2 separate regions of the Homo sapiens genome follow, and region 2 is linked to region 1. The links come from fine-mapping of genetic effects on gene expression. Tissue or cell type: whole blood. Region 1 holds a variant in brackets; the other region holds the start of a gene. All regions are shown on one strand. Distances are between the middles of the regions.

What was found. PIP is the estimated chance that this variant, and not a neighbour inherited with it, causes the effect.
Region 2: it holds the start of TMEM134, and the variant in region 1 is fine-mapped to the expression of TMEM134 in whole blood (TOPMed, PIP above 0.99).

Annotation. Positions count from the first base shown.
Region 1 is chr11:67,218,826-67,226,825 of GRCh38, reverse strand. KDM2A (lysine demethylase 2A) reads right to left here. Exons shown (of 21, transcript NM_012308.3): 10 at 7,423-7,538. It overlaps LOC124902839 (small nucleolar RNA U13), which reads right to left and starts at 5,918; the gene lies at 5,810-5,918. RefSeq lists an enhancer at 3,689-4,568. The variant C/T (reference allele first, on the strand shown) is at 3,865.
Region 2 is chr11:67,464,386-67,472,513 of GRCh38, reverse strand. TMEM134 (transmembrane protein 134) reads left to right here and starts at 3,263. Exons shown (of 7, transcript NM_025124.4): 1 at 3,263-3,495; 2 at 4,422-4,486; 3 at 4,924-5,013; 4 at 5,126-5,202; 5 at 7,414-7,458; 6 at 7,658-7,711; 7 at 7,818-8,128. The coding sequence starts at 3,322. The coding sequence ends at 7,900. RefSeq lists enhancers at 2,859-3,038, 3,027-3,651 and silencers at 3,189-3,328, 3,539-3,678.

The sequences.
Region 1 (8,000 bases):
CTTTTAGAAAATAAAAGAGCAGCTCGCGGCCAGTGCTCATTTAATTTTACATAAACATGCTCTTTGATGCTGAAGGAAATCTGATTGATTTTCGTTTGTTTTTTGAGACGGAGTCTTGCTCTGTTGCCCAGGCTGGAGTGCAGTGGCGCGATCTCGGCTCACTGCAAGCTCCACCTCCCGGGTTCACACCATTCTCCTGCCTCAGCCTCCTGAGTAGCTGGTACTACAAGCGCCCGCCACCACGCCCGGCTAATTTTTTGTATTTTTAGTAGAGACGGGGTTTCACCATGTTAGCCAGGATGGTCTCGATCTCCTGACCTCGTGATCTGCCCGCCTTGGCCTCCCAAAGTTCTGGGATTACAGGCGTGAGCCACTGCGCCTGGCTGGAAATCTGATTGATTTTCAAGGTGAACATAAAATATAAAAACTGTCTTTGGAGTTATTTCTAAACAAAACTAACAGCAGGATGGTCTGAATCATCAGGATTGTCTATTTCAGAAAAATCAGATCCATCAAATGAATCTCTGGCCAACAACTGTTCATGAATGATATATTATTATTTTTTTTTTGAGATGGAATCTCGCTCTGTCACCAAGGCTAGTGTGCAGTGGTGGGATCTCGGCTCACTGCAACCTCCACCTCCTGGGTTCAAGCAATTCTCCTGCCTCAGCCTCCTGAGCAGCTGGGATTATAGGTGTGTGCCCCTACACCTGGCTAATTGTTATTTTAAATTTATTTATTTATTTATTTTTACTCTTTTTTGACACAGTTTTGTTCTTGTTGCCCAGGCTGGACTGCAATGGTGCAATCTTGGCTCACTGCAACCTCCACCTCCTGGGTTCAAGCGATTCTCCTGCCTCAGCCTCCCAAGTAGCTGGGATTACAGGTGTGCACCACCATGACCAGCTAATTTTTATGTTTTTAGTAGAGACGGGGTTTCACCATCTTGGCCAGGCTGGTCTCGAACTCCTGACCTCAGGTGATCCACCTGCCTCAGCCTCCCAAAGTGCTGGGATTACAGGCATGAGCCACCGTGCCCAGCTATTTATTTATTTAGAGACAGAGTTTTGTGCTTATTGCCCAGGCTAGAGTCCAGTGGTGTGATCTCGGCTCACCGCAACCTGTGCCTCTGAGTTCAAGCGATTTTCCTGCCTCAGCCTCCCGAGTAGCTGGGATTACAGGCATGCGCCACCACACCTGGCTAATTTTGTATTTTTAGTAGAAACACGCCTTCTCCATGTTGGTCAGACTGGTTTCGAACTCCCAACGTCAGGTGATCCACCCACCTCGGCCTCCCAAAGTGCTGGGATTACAGGCGTGAGCCAGCGTGACTGGCCAATTGTTGTATTTTTAGTAGAGACGGGGTTTCACCATGTTGGCCAGGTTGGTCTCGAACTCCTGAACTCCAGTGATTCGCCCGCCTCAGCCTCCCAAAGTGCTGGCATTACAGGCATAAGCCACCACGCCTGCCCAAGAATGATGTTAACATCACGCATAGGAATGCTATGTTTTCTAGGATTTGACATTTTCAGCAATCAAGAATAACTATATTTTGTAAGTAGAAATACCACTACTAAAAACAGAATGCTATAAATAGAATGATATCTTTTGTTTTCAAAGTCAGTATACTAGAGTGATGTGAAAATAATAAAAGCGAGATAGTTCGTGGCAAAGTTATCTTGGGGTAAATGCTGCAGCCGCCGGGCGTGATGGCTCACACCTGTAATCCCAGCGCTTTGGGAGGCCAAGGCAAGTGGATCACCTGAGGTCAAGAGTTCGAGACCAGCCTGCTGAAACCCCGTCTCTACTAGAAATACAAAAATTAGCGTGGTGGTGCATACCTGTAATCCCAGCTACTCGGGATGCCTGGGCAGGAGAATTGTTTGAACCTGGGAGGTGGAGGTTGCAGTGAGCTGAGATCACACCACTGCACTCCAGCTTGGACAACAGCAGCGAAACTCTGTCTCCAAAAAAAAAAAAAAAAAAAAAAAAAAAAATGCTGCAGCTGCCAAGTGCCCCTGGTGAGTATCATTGGGGAAAATGAGAAAGGGATTAATTTTGGCCGGACAAGATAGCTCAAGCCTGCAATCCCAGCACTTTGGGAGGCTGAGGTGGGTGGATCATGAGGTCAGGAGATCAAGGCCATCCTGGCTAACACAGTGAAACCCCATCTCTACTAAAAATATAAAAATTGGCCGGGCTTGGTGGCGGGTGCCTGTAGCCCCAGCTACTCGGGAGGCTGAGGCAGGAGAATGGTGTGAACCCAGGAGGCGGAGCTTGCAGAGTGAGCTGAGATCGCACCACTGCACTCCAGCCTGGGGGACAGAGCGAGACTCTGTCTCAAAAAAAAAAAAAAAAAAAAAAGAAAGGGGTTAATTTTTGGTACGGACAGGGTCTCACTATGTTGTCCAGGCTGGTCTTAAACTCCTGGGATTAAGTGATCCTTCGCTTCAAACTCCCAAAAAGTACTTGGGATTATAGGCATGAACCACCATATCTGGCCATACAGCTTTCTTTTAGAGAGGCCATATTTCAAAAGGATAAGCCAAATGATACTGTTTTGAATATGCAGCTCCTGAGAATGTTCCCATCTCCTCCCATATTGTAGGGATGACTTCACCTACCCGTTTACAAACTCTATATCGGGTAGTGTTCCTGAATCACGGAGAACTGGATAGGAGTCCCTTTTCAAAAACCTTCACCAGGCCACAGGGCATCACTGGGGAATAAGGAGATCACTCTCCCCATGGCAAGGCAGGAGAGGAGATGTACTTTTCATAGTTAGCCCCAATCAGTTTTCTAATGCATAGTAGCCAGACCCTGATTCTGGTTTCTTATGTGGCTAAAACTTTTAACAACTAAAAGAATGACTCTCTTACACGGAAGTAAAATTAATTTATTTCTGACTAAGGGAGACAGAGGAGAGAGACAACAACCAATAGGTATTTGGTCCCTCAAAATTAAATATAATACACTACGCCTCTCCATTAGCCTTTTAAGTATAGCAACACTTTCTGGAAGGGTTTTTATTAGGAGTTCAGGACAACTCCAAATTCTAAAGCCCTCTGGAAATCAGTTGAAAGCTGAGTAATAATGACAGTTTAAAAAAAAGAAGAGTCTGGGCATAGTGGCTCATGCCCGTGGTCCCAAGGCTTTGGGGGCCTGAGGCTGGAGGACTGCTTGAGCCCAGGAGTTTGAGACGAGCCTGGGCAGCATAGTAAAACCTCGTTTCTACAAAAAAATAAAAATAAAAAAACTAGCCAGGTGTGGTGGTGTGCGTCTGTGGTCCCAGCTACTCAGGAGGCTGAGGCAGAAGGATCACTTGAGCCTACGAGGTTGAGGCTGCAATGAGCTGAGATCATGCTACTGCACTCCAGCCTGGGTGACAGAGTGAGACCCTGTGTCAAAAATAAATAAATAAATAAATAAATAAATAAGAAAGAAAAAAGGAAGAAAATATGAAATACAGGCATTAAAATTTTGAGTTTTTACTCGTAACTTATAAGACTGTATTAATTATAGCCAAGAGATACCACATACCCAACCTGACCCCATTGCTTTTTACTTATGCCGCATATCAATTTCTAAGACTGGGTTAGCATTTTTTGGAAATAATTTTTTTTTTTTTTTTTTGAGATGGAGTTTCATTCTTGTCGCCCAGGCTGGAGTGCAATGGCACGATCTTGGCTCACTGCAACCTCCGCCTCCCAGGTTCAAGCGATTTTCCTGCCTCAGCCTCCTGAGTAGCTGGGATTACAGGCATGTGCCACCACGCCTGGCTAATTTTGTATTTTTAGTAGAGACAGGGTTTCTTCATGTTGCTCACGCTGGTCTCAACTTCCTGACCTCAGGTAATCTGCCTGC[C/T]TAGCCTCCCAAAGTGTTGGGATTACAGGTGTGAGCCACTGTGCCTGGCCTTTTTTTTTTTTCCCCCTTATTTTTCTTCTCTTTACGTAGAAAACTCTTCATGCAGGGGATAAGGTACTCACTTTATGTTACTGAATATGTATTTTCCTTTTCTTCCCTGAAACTGAACCAGTGTATAAGACCCAGGTGTAAGAGTCATCTTTAACCATAAAAAGGGAACACATTCTAAAAACCAATTTTCAGACTGAATCTTAGAATGGGTACATAATTACCTCTAAGAATGACAGAGTTTTGAGGGGCGCCTCTGCCCGGCCGCCCCTACTGGGAAGTGAGGAGCCCCTCTGCCCGGCCACCACCCCGTCTGGGAGGTGTGCCCAACAGCTCATTGAGAACGGGCCAGGATGACAATGGCGGCTTTGTGGAATAGAAAGGCAGGAAAGGTGGGGAAAAGATTGAGAAATCGGATGGTTGCCGTGTCTGTGTAGAAAGAAGTAGACATGGGAGACTTTTCATTTTGTTCTGCACTAAGAAAAATTCCTCTGCCTTGGGATCCTGTTGATCTGTGACCTTACCCCCAACCCTGTGCTCTCTGAAACATGTGCTGTGTCCACTCAGGGTTAAATGGATTAAGGGCGGTGCAAGATGTGCTTTGTTAAACAGATGCTTGAAGGCAGCATGCTCGTTAAGAGTCATCACCAATCCCTAATCTCAAGTAATCAGGGACACAAACACTGCGGAAGGCCGCAGGGTCCTCTGCCTAGGAAAACCAGAGACCTTTGTTCACTTGTTTATCTGCTGACCTTCCCTCCACTATTGTCCCATGACCCTGCCAAATCCCCCTCTGTGAGAAACACCCAAGAATTATCAATAAAAAAATAAATTAAAAAAAAAAAAAAAAAAAAGAATGACAGAGTTAAACAGGAGTATTTTACTATGGAATTATACATTTTTTTTCTTTTGAAACATTTTCCCTATTTTAGAATATTTACCTATTTTAGAATAGACATCTTTTTTTTTTTTAAATTAACAGACTGTGTCTCACTCTTCCACCCAGGCTGGAGTACAGTGGCACCAACATAGCTCACTGCAACCTGGAACTCCTAGGTTCAAGCAATCCTCTCACCTCAGCCTCCCCAGTAGCTAGGATTACAGGCATGCACCACCACACCCGGCTTTGTTGCCCAGGAGAGTCTCAAACTCCTTGCTTCACATAATCCTCCCACTTTGGGCTCTCAAAGGGTTGGAATTACAGGTATGAGCCCCTGTGCCTGAACTGTACTTTTGTTACTCTTAACAAATAAAAAGAAATGTACTTTTATAAAATGTGTTGAAGAAGCACTGGCTTCCTCTCTTAATTCTACTAGTAGGGCAATTCCTGTAACTCCAACAATAATATCAATGATGTGTATAGTGATACGTAACTCCTACACCAAAATAAATGTTGCAAAATAGGCACCATAATGGTTGACTATTATTGCAGTACATAGGTCAGTGACCATTCCTATAATATATAAAAGACCATTCATATAAAAGTTGTGAATTCTTCATTAATTGTTATTTTAAAATTTTTAATACTTTTAATTCTACCAAAAAGTTTCAAGAGCAGTAGCATTAATAGTTCTACACTCTTCTCTGCAATTCTCCAACTGTTAACATTTCTCCACATCTGCTCATCTCCATACTAGCTTAGTATTCTGCTAAGCTACTTGAGAGTAACTTACAAACATCACAACCCCCAAATATTCTAATTGCTGTTTAATCCCAGTATCATCTATACTTTCATATATGATTCAGCCCTTACCAATTAGAATTCTGCTAAAAAATAAGCTCTCATTCTCTAAGGTGGAGGCTAGCCAGCAAACAACACTTAGTGGATTTGGCCTGCTGCCTCTTTTTATGATTCCTGTGAACTAGGAGTGTTTTTTACCTTTTTTTTTTTTTTTCGGGTCAGACAGGTAATGTGCTGACGTATTAATAGTAACAAGGTTCAAGGGTGGCATCTTTCACATACGTGCATGAACACCTAATCATGATCATGAACTATATAAAAGGATCGTTTTTTACATTTTTTAATGGTTGAAAAAAATTTAAGAGTATTCTGTGACATGTTAAAGTTATCTGAAATTCAACTTTCAGTGTCTATGAATAAAATTTTATATTATTTGAGCCACACTCATTTGTTTAAGTATTTCATGCTACAAGGTAGGGTTAAACAGTTACAATAGACACTTTATGACCCACGAAGCCTAAAATATTTACTATCTGGTCCTTTGCAGGAAAAGTTTGTCAACTCTTGCCTTAAGGTATCCATTGTATATAATAAATTAACTTTTTTCTATGCATCTAGAAGGGTATTAGCTGTGTATCATCCTAGAGAAAAATGAGAAAATAAGATACACAAATTATTTTATTTTGGGCTTAATTCTCTCTTGAAACCCCAGTTGAGAAAGACAGTATATACATTTATATAATTAAAGTAAGATGCTTTGAGTATAGTCATCAGTGTAGAAAAAGATACATGAATTTAAAGTTCTGAAATTTGGGTTGATAAGCCCCATTACACCAAATTATTCTGTGAGCATAAAAATGAAACACATGGCTCAAGAGATTACCAGAGGTAAATGTCTGGCCTTATAAAAATCCAAGATACTGTGGGATGCAGTAGCTCACACTTGTAATCCCAGCACTTTAGGAGGCCAAAGCGGGCAGATCACTTGAGCCCAGGAGTTCAAGACAAGCCTGGGCAACACAGCAAAAACCCATCTCCAAAAAATACAAAAAAATTAGCTGCATGTGGTGGCGTGTGCCTGTAGTCCCAGCTACCTGGGAGGCTGAGGTGGGAGGATCAACTGAGCCCAGGGAGGTTGAGGCTGCAGTGAGCCATGACTGTGACACTGCACACCAGCCTGGGCAACAGAGTGAGACTCTGTCCCAAATATTAAAAGAAAAAAATGTTACTTTTTCCCATTCACTATGGTGTTGGCTAAAAAATAAAATAAAATAAAATAAAATTTTAAAAAAAGGAAAGAAAAAGAAATCCAAGATACCAAAAACCTCACAGAATTGGAGTCCCTAAAACGGAGTATGTAAATCGTGTTAAAATTTTTATTTGGCCAGTCGCAGTGGCTCACACCTGTAATCCCAGCACTTTGGGAGGCTGAGGTGGGAGGACTGCTTGAACCAGGAGTTCTAGACCAGCCTGGGCAACGCAGTGAGACCAAGTCTCTACGAAAAAAATTAAAAATTAGTCAGATGTGGTGTGCACCCACGGTCCCAGCTACTTGGGAGGCTGAGGCAGGAAGATGCTTGAGCCTGGGAGGTTGAGGCTGCAATCATCCATGATCACGCCACTGCACTCTAGCCTGGAAAACAGAACAAGATTCTGCCTTAAAAAAAAAAAAATTAAATTTAAAATTTTGTGTGTTCCCAAAATGTCAACACTGCATTTTAACTGAAAGAAAAATGGAAGTTTTGATAAACCATCAGTGAATCTCTTGTAACATCTATCATAACTGGAGTAAACCTCTTCACATGCAACTGTTACATAAGATTACTTACCCGTGTCCGATCTTCAATGTTGTATATTTTTAACTGCATAGGGATGTTGAAGCTATGCAAAAAATTGCCCCCAAACACTAATGTGTCTGTAGGAGTATACACAGCATGAATCCAGCCTAGGAGAAGGGGAACAGAGGGCAGTGGCTGAAAACACACATTACAGTAAGTCTCTCTCAGAGAACTAGTACAAGACCCCTAGATCACACTCTTCACTCTGATTCTGCTTCTTAGTGGTTTGTCAAGTTACTTAATCTCTCAAAGCCTCAATTTCCTCTATAAAACCAGGATAAATAATACCTCTTATGGTTGCTCATGAGCATTAAATGAGAAAATGCACATCAAATGCTTAGCACATAATAAACGTTTACTGGAGCACCAACTATAAACCAGGCTCTGTACAAGATAGTTTACAATTCAGGGGTGTCCAATCTTTTGGCTTCCCTGGGCCACACTGGAAGAAGAATTGCTTGGGCAACACATAAAATACGCTAACATGACCTGGCGCGGGGGCTCACGCCTATAATCCCAGCACTCTGGGAGGCTGAGGCGGGTGGATCACGAGGTCAGGAGTTCAAGAC
Region 2 (8,128 bases), 250 kb before region 1:
AATTTTAAAAAATGTTTAAGTTGCTGTCTAACACCACCAGCTCACCCTTGAATTCTTTCCCAGGTGAAGCCAAGCACTCTCTTGGGCTAAGCCCCAATTTTGGGGATCACCTGCCCTGCATCAGCCTTGCTACGCTGAGGCTGATCTTGAATTCCTGGCCTCAAGTGATCCTCCTGCCTCAGCTTCCCCAAAGTGCTGGGATTACAGACATGAGCCACTGCACCCAGCCTGAAAAGGAGTGATTATTCTTTGAGAGCATGTTAGACAAAGAGTCAAAGACAGACAGATAGGAAATATGTGCAAGGTCATAAACCAGCAAGGAATTAATGATTAGATATGTTGATATGCAAATTAGTGGAAAAAGGCTAGAAACCCAATAGCAAAAAGAAAGACCAAAGATATGAAAAGCCAGTTCACAGACAAGGGACACCCAATGGCTGACAAGGGCACAAAGAGCAGCTCAAACTCTCCAGCCATCAGAGAACCCAGAGGAACATGAGGTACCACTTTAAATTCATCAGATCGGCAAGCCATTAAAAAGTTGGATGGTACCAAGTCCTGAGAGAACCAGAAGCCTCAGGTGGAGTGTCAACTCTCACAGCCACTCAGGAGAGCATCTGTGGTACCCTGTGAAGTCATGAGTGCGTGTGCCCTATAACCTGGAAATCCTACCCCAAGGGGAATTCTCCCACAGTCCATAAGGGGACAGCAGGAAGATGTTAACTGCAGTGATGCCTGTGATGGCGGGGTTGAGGCCAGTTTGAGTGTACAACACTGTGGAGGTGAGGTGGATCATAAAGGTGCTAGACACTCAACATGGTACAACATGCATGTAGCCTGTAGAAACAATAAACAAATGCATATGGAAAACAGCATCGAGAGCAAAAATGTAAACGTGTAAGTAACAGAACTGAATTTTCTGCATGACATCATGTTTGTAAATTGCAAACACATCCACATAGGAGACAGTGCCATACATGGTACAGAGCCAGGCAGGCTTTAAGGACGCCGACTGAGCATGCTGACATGGGTCTGATGGAAGGCAGGGGAGAGGAAGGAACCTGGGAAGTGAAAGAGGGTAAGTGAATTAACATAACTCGAGAGGGGCCTTATTCATAGTGTTGATGTGTAACAAACAGAAGTAGACTTGACTCAGCTCTGTACATGAGGCCATAAAATGAACATGAGGCCGGGTGTGGTGGCTCATACCCAGCACCTTGGGAGGCCGAGGTGGGCAGATCACGCCTGTAATCCTAGCTACAGGGGAGGCTGAGGCAGGAGAATCGCTTGAACCCAGGGGGCGGAGGTTGCAGCAAGCCGAGATCTTGCCACTGCACTCCAGCCCGGGTGACGGTGCGAGACTCTGTCTCAAAAATAATAATAATAATAATAATAATAATAAGGCAGGGCACTGTGGCTCATGCCTGTAATCCCAGCCTCCTCGGGAGGCTGAGGCAGGAGAATCACTTGAACCCAGGAGGTGGAGGTTGCAGTGAGCTGAGATCGCACTCCAGCTTGGGCAACAGAGCGAGACCCTGTGTCGAAAAAAACAAAAACAAAAAAGAACTCTTGACTAAGGTCCATAAAGCTCTCAAGGCTCTGGGGCCCATCTACTCCTCCCAGGCTCATCAAGTCGGCCTGCCCCTTTCCTTGCTGCTCAGCCACACTGGTTTTCTCACATTCTTCCTCCACAGGCCAAGCTCCTTCCCACCTCCTGGCCTTTGAACGTGCTGTTCCCTGGTGCCAGGAAAACACTGAACCTTGCTTTTCTCACAGCTGGCTCCTTCATCATCGGCATTCCTGCTCAAATGTCACCTCTTGGAAAGGTCATCTTTGAGTACGAAATCTAAAGTCAGTTTTGCATCACACAGCACTTGAAACTGTCTCATTTTGCACTGTTTTATTCACCACTGTATCTATAGTGCCCAAAACAGTGTTTGGCCCTAAATAGATGCTTAATAAATACTTGTGGCAGAAATGAATGAGGGGTTTGCCAAAGTCCCAAGTACTTACAAGTGGTAGAATGGGGATTTGAAACCAGGTCCACCTAATTCATAGAGTACTTCTGCTCTTCCACCCCCACCGCCCCCCACCACGGTTCATTTTTTTTTTATGGAGTCTTGCTCTGTTGCCCAGGCTGGAGTGCAGTGGTGTGATCTCCACTCACTACAACCTCTGCCTCCAGGGTACAAGCGATTCTCCTGCCTCAGCCTCCCAAGTAGCTGGGATTACAGGCACTGGTCACCGTGCCCAGCTAATTTTTGTATTTTTAGTAGAGACTGGGTTTCACCATGTTGGCCAGGCTGGTCTCAAACTCCTGACCTCAAGTGATCCACTCTCCTTGGCCTCCCAAAGTGTGAGCCACCGTGCCCTGCCAAGAGTTCAGATTTTATTCTAAGTGCAATGGAAAACCAAGGGAAGGTTTTTTTGTTTGTTTTGTTTTGTTTTTTGAGACGGAGTCTTGCTCTGTCGCCCAGGCTGGAGTGCAGTGGCTCAATCTCGGCTCACTGCAACATCTGCCTCCCGGGTTCAAGCAATTCTTCTGCCTCAGCCTCCCAAGTAGCTGGGACTATAGGCATGCACTACCACGCCCGGCTAATTTTTGTATTTTTAGTAAAGACGGGGTTTCGCCTTTTGGCCAGGCTGGTCTTGAACTCCTGACCTCAAGTGATCCACCCGCCTCGGCCTCCCAAAGTGCTGGGATTACAGGAGTGAGCCACCGAGCCAGGCCAGCAGCAAAATTTTTAAAAAGGGTTTTCAGAATAACACACGCAGATAAAAAGATTTGTTTTAAAAGATCACTTCGGCTGCTGCGTGGAGACTGACTGGAAATTGGAAGACACATAAGCTCTCTGAGCCTCGGTTTCCACATTTGCAAAAATGGGGAGAGCACCCCTCCGGTGCGGGGCTGTTGTGAGTAAGGTGGGGAAACAGTTCCCAGGAGTCTCCTTGGCACTCGAGGAACAGGCTGCGGTGCAAAAGGCCCTGTCAGGGACCTGGAGGTTGGGGCGTGGAAGCCCCTCCAAGCCCCCGCACATACACGCCTGGGGGATGTGTCCGAGCCCGGCACGGGCTGTCGCTTGCCATGGCGGCCACTGAGTGGCGTCACGGGGCGGGCGCGCTCCGTCTGGAAGAGGCTCCCACCCATCAGCCCGCTCAGGGCTCGGCAACTCTGGCCTGCTTAGGGCGGACGGGGGCGGGACCGGCGCGTGGGGCGGAGCCAGGGTCGGAGGGGCGGGGCATGCGGGGGCGGGGCAGCGGCGACGCTGGGTGTGTGGGCGCAGATGGCGGCGGCGCACGGCGCCTGAGCGGGCCGGGGCCATGAGCGCCGCCCGGCCCCAGTTCAGCATTGATGATGCCTTCGAGCTGTCCCTGGAGGACGGGGGCCCTGGGCCCGAGTCCAGCGGGGTCGCGCGCTTTGGGCCGCTGCACTTCGAGCGTCGGGCCCGGTTCGAGGTGGCTGACGAGGACAAGCAGTCCCGGCTGCGCTACCAGGTGAACCGCCCGGCCCACCTAACCCCCTGCCCCCGGCCGGACGGGACCCCAGGCCGGGCCCCAAAGGCCTCAACTCGGGGAAGCATCTGCCTAGAGGCCCCAGCTGAAGCGCGAGACCGCCCCCCCGCCCCGCGGACGTGACTCTTGATCCAGAGCCCTGCCCAGGCCCTCCCGGTTCCCATACCGGGCCCCAGCCAGCCGGGAAGAGCCCAGTGCCCGGGCCCGGGAGCTCATCCCTCAGCTCCAGCTGGGGAACCCAACCGGATTCCCCACTCATCCTGGCTACTCGCACCTGGCCCCCGCTGGGTTGGGGGAGCTCCTCTGTATCTGAACCAGACCTTGCCCCACACGCAGGAGCATCCCCTGTGCCCCAGGCCAGCTAAGCTGATGGGAACCCGCACGCCTTTCTCTATTCTGAAAGCCCTCTCCCTAATCCCACCACCACCCCTAAGAGCTGGAGCTCCTCTCACATGACCAGTCCTTGCCCACCCTTTGGCTCCCACTAAACCAGAAAAACCCATTTTCCCAGAAAACCTCCACCAACCCTAGGCTGCTTTTCTTGGAGACCTGGACCAGAACCCTGTGCCTTGAACCTGGGAACTCTGGGCCTGGCCTTTCCTGGCACCCCAATTCCCAAGCTCCCATTCTAGGCCACTGAATGAGAGCTCCACCCTAACCCAAAGTTGGGAGCTCTCCTTTCCCTGGGATCTATGCAGGCTCCTGCTCCCCAAAGCCCTGGCATCCACCCACCTCCTACCTGGTTTCTGTGAATCACCAAACCCGTTCTGCGGGGAGGGCAGAGGGCCAGGTGAACAGCTGCCAGGCGGCCAGGCAAATGGTTGTGTAGGCCTGCTTTTCTCTTCCCGGGAGGGAGTGAGGAAGGGCCCCAGCCCAGCAACCCCCCTGAGACCTGTGTTCTGCAACAGAACCTGGAGAACGATGAGGATGGAGCCCAGGCCTCTCCGGAGCCGGATGGGGGAGTCGGCACCAGGTTAGGGCCAGGTGGGGACCCAACCCTGTACCCCAGCCCCAGCTCCTATCCCCAGGGACCCTGCTCAGTCACCCACCCCACTTCACTCACTCTCTTCCATCCCGTCCTATTGATTCCTAGCCTGACCCTCACTTTCCTCACAGGGTCTCCTACACTGTAGGGTCACCCTACCCTAGTGCCCAGCTGTACTCACCTCTTTCAGAAACCCCCAGTCTGGTCTGGCCCCCACCTTCATACAGGTCACCTGTCCTACAGAATCCCCTAGCTCATCCCCAGCCCCTGAATTCATGCTCACCCACCGAGGCCTCTCAGGGCCCACTATCCTGCAAGGGGCCAGCCCCAGTCCCTGCACCATGCCCTGCACTTCATCAGGACTCCTGTCCCAAAGCAACCCCGTCCTTGCCTCCCTGCCCCTCACTGGGCGCCTGTCCTGGCAGGGATTCCAGCCGAACTTCCATCCGCAGCTCCCAGTGGTCCTTCAGCACCATCAGCAGCAGCACCCAGCGCTCCTACAACACCTGCTGCAGGTGAGCCTGCCCGCCTAAGCCCCCAGCCGAGCAGCCCTGGCTCCACCCCCACAGCCTCCTGCACCCCCTCCCTCCACCTCCTTCACATTCACCCTGCTCTCCTGCCACCCAGCTGGACCCAACACCCTTTGATCCAGAAGAACCGCCGAGTGGTGCTGGCCTCCTTCCTGCTCCTGCTGCTGGGGCTGGGTGAGTGGCCCTGAGGGTTGGGGTCAAGAGGGGCCCCGTGGGAGGCTCTGCCCTCCTTTTGTACAGGCTCTGCCTCCCCCTTGACACTGAGCCTCCCAGCATCCTGAGGAGGCAGCTGGCTGCCATCATCACACTCCCATTTTACAGGTGAGGAGACAGAGGCCTTGTGACCTGGGCACACAGCCAGGAAATCACACATAGCTGAAAATGGAACCTGGCTTATCACTGCAAAGACTTTTCCTTTTTTAAAAAATTTAACCTGTTTAAATCCATTAGAGGACAGAAGAGTAGCAGCTACCATTTATTCTGTGTCTACTCTGGGCAAGGTGCAGGGCAGTTTTATTTTCCCATCTTACAGAAGTCCTACAAGTGAGGTGGTGCCCAGAAGCCACGTGTAGGGGCTCAGGGATGCCGAGTGCCCAGCCAGTGCAGAGCCGCAGGGCACCTGGCACTTCCCCTTGTCTGGCATCTAAGCACTGACAAGCACCCCTCTCCTACCCATTGCTCAGATGGGGGAACTTTTGGTCCAGAGCAGGCAGATCTCACACCAGGTGTTCTTTGGCTCCCAGGCACCTCGTTCTTTGGGGTAGAGGAGGCAGAGTCCCCAGAAAGGATCCAGGGTTGGGGTCACGAGTGATCCATAAGAAGGGACTAACTGTGGCTGCTACCCTGGCTCATCTCTCCGCTTCTCCAGGAAGGCCAAGGCTCCCCAGCCAGCCAGGCCCCTGGCACAGAGTCTGGCCTCTGCTCAGGGTGTTTGAGTGTGGGGGAGGGGGCTGCCACTTCCCAGCACCGCTGTACACTGGCCCTGGTAGTGCTGCCAAGTTCTTTCATTTTTCCCCTCAACCCAGCAAGGCAAGCCTGGGGCTACCAGAGCGCCTTAGAGGGCCTTTGTAGGGTGCAGGGAGTGAGTTTCAGCCCCCATCATACCCTATACCCCTTTATTTTTATTTATTTATTTTTTGAGGAGGAGTCTTGCTCTGTCGCCCAGGCAGGAGTGTAGTGGCGCAATCTCGGCTCACTGCAACCTCTGCCTCCTGGGTTCAAGGGATTTTCATGCCTTAGCCTCCAGAGTAGCTGGGATTACAGGCGCGCGCCACCACACCTGGCTAATTTTTTGTATTTTTTTAGTAGAGATGGGGTTTCACCATGTTGGCCTCAGGTGATCCACCCACCTCAGCTTCCCAAAGTGTTGGGATTACAGGCGTGAGCCACCACGCCCAGCCCTTTTTATTTTTTAGAGACAGGGTCTTGTTCTGTTGCCCAAGCTGGAGAGCTGTGGTATGATCACTGCAGCCTCAAACTCTTGGACTCAAGCCATCCTCCCAGCTGAGCCTCCCTAGTAGCTGGGACTACAGGCATGTACCACCATGCTCAGCTAATTTTTTTTTTTTTAAAATAATAATAGAGACAAGGTCTCACTATGTTGCCCAGGCTGGTCTTGAACTCCTGAACTCAAGTGATCCTCCTGCCTCAGCCTCCCAAAGTGCTAGGATTACAGCCATGAGTCACCACGCCTGGGCTGGGCTAATTTTTTTTTAACCTTTTATAGAGATGGGGATCTTGGTATGTTGCCCAGGCTGGCTTCAAACTCCTGGCCTCAAGCGATCTTCCTGCCTTGGCTCCCTGAAGCACTGGGATTACAGGCATGAGCCACCACACCTGGCCCACCCTTTTTGAAGTAGTCTGGGCAATGCACAAAGCAGTCCATGGTGGCCCCCCAGTCCCCCAGGCTTACTACCCCCCTTGTTGCAGAGCCCAAAGTCCAGCTCCTCATTCCCCCATCACTCTTCTAACTGGGGACCCAGGACTCCTGCACTGCCCTGTTCTTACCCCCTATATCCCAATCACCTGTACTGTTAGCTTTCAGGTTCTTATTGGTTCCTCCACTAAGGACGGGCCATGAGGGCAGGGACCTTATCTGCCCTTCAGGGCGGAATTCCCAGTACCAGGCACGCAGTAGGTGTTCCATAAATGTTTGCTGAATGACTAAAAGCCCACCCCAAGGAACAAAGAAAAATCTCTCCTTTCACACACTTCCCAGGGCCTGCTCAGTGCCTTGCTCTGGAAACAGAGCTTGGTGAGCTTCCTGGGGAGGGTCTCTGCCTAGGGCACCTTCAGCTCAGGTGGTGGGTGAGCCGGGCTGGGGGTGGGAGCCCCCGCCCTCACCACTGCTCCTGCCCCCACCCCCGCGGCTCCGTCTGTGTGCAGTGCTGATCCTGGTCGGCGTGGGACTGGAGGCGACCCCCTCTCCAGGTGAGCGACCCTCCCGCCCCCACAGGCAGAGGACACCCCTGTCTTGTGTCCACGGGTCCACGGCAAGCCCTCCCACCTCCCGGCAGTACACGGCTCCTTTTCAGCTGGGAGTGAGGCTTGCCCGGGCAGTCAGCGGCAGCCCGGAAGGCCTCGAAGCCTCCGCCCCCTCGCCCTGACCGGGCTCTGGTCCCTCCCGCAGGTGTCTCCAGCGCCATCTTCTTCGTGCCGGGCTTCCTGTTGTTGGTGCCTGGAGGTGCGAGCGGGCACCGGGGCGGAAGGGGCGGGGGCTGTGGGGCGGCACTGGGGGCGGTGTTGCGGGGAGGGGCGGGGCTTCTGCGCTGACAGGCCCCGCCCCGCAGTCTATCACGTGATCTTCATCTACTGCGCGGTCAAGGGCCACCGGGGCTTCCAGTTCTTCTACCTGCCCTACTTCGAGAAGTGATCGCGGCGCAGCGTGGACCCCTTGCGCCCATGGGGGCGCCCCTCTTGCCCTGTTCCGTTCCCCTCATCTCAAGGGAAGAGGCCCTCCAGGACCCTCGAAACCCCAGCCCCTAGGGAGTTTGCTCAGGAAGTTCGGGGCATGCAGGCCTGGCCCTGGGAAAGCCGCCCGTCGCCTGCTCTGTGCCTTAACTTATTCTCGGGCCGTGCGGCTGCTAGGTTGCTGTTATTT